Linked DNA regions of Homo sapiens: region 1 is linked to region 2. A link means that fine-mapping ties the variant in region 2 to the expression of a gene that starts in the linked region. Tissue or cell type: B cells. Region 2 holds a variant in brackets; the other region holds the start of a gene. All regions are shown on one strand. Distances are between the middles of the regions.

Evidence for each region. PIP is the estimated chance that this variant, and not a neighbour inherited with it, causes the effect. A credible set is the group of variants that fine-mapping cannot tell apart.
Region 1: CCDC102A starts here. The variant in region 2 is the best candidate, but not a certain one, in a credible set for the expression of CCDC102A in B cells (Fairfax 2012, PIP 0.86).

Annotation. Positions count from the first base shown.
Region 1 is chr16:57,535,570-57,538,069 of GRCh38, reverse strand. It overlaps CCDC102A (coiled-coil domain containing 102A), which reads left to right and starts at 1,499. Exons shown (of 9, transcript NM_033212.4): 1 at 1,499-1,570. It also overlaps a transcript of ADGRG5 not described here. RefSeq lists a silencer at 1,257-2,206.
Region 2 is chr16:57,510,825-57,513,347 of GRCh38, reverse strand. It overlaps CCDC102A (coiled-coil domain containing 102A), which reads left to right. Exons shown (of 9, transcript NM_033212.4): 9 at 478-1,167. The coding sequence ends at 607. Among named protein-coding and RNA genes, the nearest start is that of CCDC102A, 24 kb to the left of the region's middle. The variant A/G (reference allele first, on the strand shown) is at 1,434.

The DNA of each region.
Region 1 (2,500 bases), 25 kb before region 2:
CAACTCAGTCTCCACCACCTTCCCCAGCCCCATTTCCACCTCCAAAAACTCTGGGCAAGACCTCTGGGCTCTTGATCCAAGGCTGTTACTGGCTGTAGGACCTTGTGCAAGTCTGAGCCAAGAGCCTCTCTGAGCCTTCATTTCCTCAGCTGTAAAATGTGGATGCCCTTGTCCTCTGAGTACTCAAACCCCACATACATCTCCTATCTATCTCTGGCTGGTGAACAGACGCTTTCAACATTCAGCCACGCATAACAAATACAAAGCAAATGAATCGACAAGTGAAACTGCCAGTCTTGCAACGTATGGGATTTCATGAAGTTGGTGGAAGCAAAGCAGGAGAAATGGAACAGCCGCTGCCCACAGAGAAAGGGAACGTCTGCAAGGGAAGTGACCCAGACCCGAAAAAAGGCACTGGACTATCAAAGGATTCAGAGTGATCCTTGAGTTTGAGGAAGCTCTCAAATATTTTTGCAAAAATGAATCTCTTACTGCAAAAACCAGTTCAGAAGGGAAGGATGCTACATACTCAACTATTACAAGAAAAAGCAAGACTTCCAGTGTTAACATCTGATTCATTCTTGGTTCATTTTAAGGCGTGCGTGGTTGCAATCATAATCTAAACTCCGTTAATCACGGGGTAAAACTAATTTATCTTCGTAATATTTAGCTTCTTTTTCTAGGTAAAATCCCAATCAGGCCAGGTTTTCCCCACCATCTTGGTGAATTGTTGGTCTTCTTTTAAATAGATTCACCTCGGGGGCCTTCCAGGGTACAGGATGTAGTGGGGAGTCCTCCAGACGCCTGTCCCGGCTTTCCAGTCAAGACCACAAACATCCTACCCCCAATAGAGAGAAAGCCCCAAAACAGCTGGGCGTCCCCGAAGGCGAAGTACCGTAATTCCCCAGGGCCTGCCAACCACCATCGCAATGCAGAGAAAAGTCTCCGCCCGCCGGGCCGAGTGCTCCCCGCGCCCCCCACCTCTTAACAAGCGCAAGGTTGCTTTCGTCAACCCTTCTGTTGTACAGAAAGAGAAACTGAGGCCCGATGGGCACAGACTTGTTGGCCCACTTCCACTCGGTGGCAGAGCTGGCCCAGGGAAAAATGCAGGTAACAACAGTGAAGACTTGGTAAGCTCGCTCCACGTGCCGAGCTGGGACCCGCGGTGGCCGTTTCTGCTGGGGGCGCCTAGTACGTAGTTGGCGCTGAGGAAACCTGAACCAAGAAAGCCGAGCCCCCCCGCAACTCTCGGCCCCTCACGGGGGTGGGGCCTCCGTTGGGGTACGGCCCGCTCTGCAGCAGAGCCCACCGCCCCGGCCCGCACCCCTCGCCCCGAAGTTAGGCTGGAGCCCCCACCCCAGCAGCTCGGTGGGCCGGGGTCACAGCGGGGCCGCAGCCTGCGACCGCTTCGGGGGCCCCGCCGCTCCCCCTGCTTCCCCTCCCCCCGGGAGGGAGGAGGAGACTCCGCGGCCCTCCCTCGGCCCCTCCGGCGGCGGTCGCAGCTGCACGGTGCCCGCTCTACCCCGCCGCAGCGGCTGGGACGTACGGAGCCCGCAAGTCCCGGCCCGAGGTGAGCGGGGGCGGCAGGCCGGGGGGCGGCAGGCCAAGGCGGCCCGGGAACTTGCTCCAGGCCGCGCGCCTTCCGCGGGAAGGAAGGGGTTAAGTTGTGGGGCGTGCTGGAGGAGCAGACACAGTCGGGGCGCCCGCGGCAACCCCCGAACTCAGAGCAGAACTTTCTAGACGCCTCCCCGGCCTCCCTCAGCCCCCGGAACCCCAGGTCTCCGGTGGGGAGGGGCCGCGGGGTGATGGGGGAGGGGAGGCGCCTCCGGAATGCCGCGGCCCGGGCCGGACGGGAGGGGGCGGCGGGCGGGGACGGAATTTGGGACTCTCCCGGGGGACCCAACGTGGTCGCCATGGCGAATGCGGGATGGACGGGCGGCGCTGGCCAATCAGAGCACGGCGCCCTGCCCAGAGCCGCGGCGACTGCCAATGGGGGCCATGCGGTGGGGTGGGCGGGACCGCGCGGCGCGGGCCGGGAACCCCCTCCACCCTCCGCCCGTCGCTAGGTGGAGCGGGGCGGTTCGCAGGGCCAGCGGCTTGGGAGGGGTCGACTAAGTGAGGACTAAGGCGACGCAGGGCTGGGGCTTCAGTTTCAGTACCTTAGGTGGGGGTGGTGTCCACCTTCCCACCCCCGCTCTCCCAGGGCTCTTGTGGGGGTTGGATTGGTTTGGGTTCGGGAGGTCTGCCCACCTGTTAGAGCGTTCAGGAATCTTTTTAGTGCCTCTCCCCATCCTGTAGGTAAGGAAACTGAGGCCCAGAGAGGGCAGGGACTTGCAGATATCACACAGCATATCAGTGATGGAGCTGGGACTAGCGGGATGTCTGCTGTACAAGAGTGAAGAGTTCACGGTGTTGCCGAGAGGGGTGGGGCTGGGGTCGGGGTGGGGCTGGGTCCCCATGAAGGTTCACCCCACCATTCCAGCTGTGCGTATCCACTTGG
Region 2 (2,523 bases):
CGTAAATTTTGACTTTAGGAATTTTAATGTGAGGAAGAACTAGGGCTGAGCCCTTTCTCACTGACACTGGGAATGTAGAGGGCTCAGCCCACCCTGCACTGTCACACCAACCAACTCTGCTGCCTGTGCTCTGAGAGCCAGGCTTGGGTTCAAATCCTGCAGCATGACCTTGAGCCAGCTCCTTCACCTCTCTAACCGCCCAGCTGCTCTGGCACCACCCACTTCAGTTCAGAGCTCTGCCCCACTCCCCACCATCTGTGTGACTTTGAGCAAATGACTTCACCTTTCTGTGCCTCGGTTTCCTTGCTTGTAAAATGGGGGTGATAATGGCACTTCTATCATATAAGGAGATTACAGGAGATGAGACAGCAGGGAAAGCACCAGGGAAGGCTTAACTGCTCCAGCACCAGCTGCAGCCACCTTATCGGGGGACTACCAGCCAGGCTGCTCTAACCTCCTGTCACCCCCACCCCACAGGCTCCGCAGGCAGCAGCAGAACGCTCCCCTCTTCGGGAAGATCCGCAGTGCTCGCTTTGGCACCGAGGAGGCCGAGGATGGAACCAGTGACCTGGACGAGGACGAGGACCTGCAAATCCAGGTGGCCTAGAGCTTCCTGTGGCTGGGCAGGATGGGCCGCCCCATACCTGCCCAGGGTCCAGGCTAACCAGCCACTCAAACTGATGCAGTGCCTAGGCTCACTCTGGGACCAGTCCCTGCCACAGCCGACTTTCTTCTCTCCCAGGGATGGCGTCAACAGTCCCACCTACCAACGCCCTGTGGAAAGGAAGCCTATGTTTTATATATATATATACACACACGCGCGCGCGCGCGCGCACACCCAGAAGTCTTTGGACCCATTTGGTTTTATAAATACAGGACAGCTCCAAGGCCCAGTCCAGATGACCTCACCCACCCAGGACTTCATGCAGGGCTGGGCATGTTGGGGGCAGTTGTTGGAGCCCCACCCTGGGCTGCCTCTCTAGGCTTCGCTGTTCATCATACAATGCAGTGAACCCAGTTATTTGTAATAAATGAAGTTCAAGTTCTTGGGGCATCTGAAAGTATGGCAGATGTGGGCGGGGGTTGTGGGGGACGGCATCGGCCTGCACCTGACGCTGAACCAGAGCTCAGGAATGTCAAGTAACTTAATAAATGAGTGAATGTGAAGAAGAAAGAATGAATGAATGAGGCCAGCCACGGTGGCTCACACCTGTAATCCCAGCACTTTGGGAGTCCAACGCAGGTAGATTGCTTGAGCCCAGGAGTTCAAGACCAGCCTGGGCAACATGGCCAAATCCCGTCTTTACTAAAAACACAAAAATGAAAAAAAAAAAAAAAAAACACAAAAATGAGCCGGGTATGGTGTTGATTGCCTGTGATTTCAGCTACTCAGGAGGCTGAGGCAGGAGAATCGCTTGAAGCCAGGAGGTGGG[A/G]GTTGCAGTGAGCCGAGATCACACCATTGCACTCCAGCCTGGGCAACAGAGCAAGACTCGGTCTCAAAAAAAACCCCACAAAGAATGAATGAATAAACATCTGAGCTGCTGAGCAGTCTGGTATCCACTCCTGTGGCGAGGAGGAAGAAAGTACAGTGCATGCCTACTCTAGAGACTTCAGTTCTGGCACCCGATGGATTCATGTCTCTGCCCCTTATTAGCTGTGCAACCTCTGGGAAGTTACTTGCCCTCTCTGAGCCTCAGTTTCTTCATTTATAAGATGTCTCAGAGCTGTCACAAGAATTAGATAGGTTAACCCAGAGCTCGGTAAAGGTTAGTTATATTAAATACCTAAAAGTTTTCCCTGGAGAGGAGGGATTTGCCAGGTGGGCGCAGGGGATGAAGTTCAAGTATTGATGGAAGTTTACCTAGAGGTAGATGTGGACACAATAAATTACAAACCCTTTTTTTCCCCCCAGCCCTGCCCTACATAGCGAAATTACAGGCAGTTTTATTTTTGGTATTTAATTTCTATACCTTCTATAACCAGCAGATTTATGTTAAATCTGATGGTAACAGTGATTAGAAACATGGTAGCAGGCTGGGCATGGTGGCTCATGCCTGTAATCCTAGCACTTTGGGAGGCTGAGGCAGGCAGATCACCTGAGGTCGGGAGTTCAAGACCAGCCTGGCCAACATGGTGAAACCCTGTCCCAACTAAAAATACAAAAATTAGCCGGGCCTGGTGGCAGGCGCCTGTAATCCCAGCTACTCGGGAGGCTGAGGCAGAAGAATCGCTTGAACTCGGGAGGTGGAGTTTGCAGTGAGCCGAGATTGCACCACTGCACTCCAGCCTGGGCGACAGAGCAAGACTCTGTCTCCAAAAAAAAAAGAAACACGGTAGCATACACTTTTGATCTTTCACAGTCAAAGTGGCTTTCGGGGCATCTGCTCTTTTGATGGGACCCTTTAGGTAAATTCTCAGTACCCGGGCCTGCTTTCTGCAGAAGGAAGCGTTGCCAGGATTATTCTAGCATAAAGAAGGTGGTGAGCTCCCTGTGTTTAGGGCTGTGCAAGGAGAGGCTAGGGC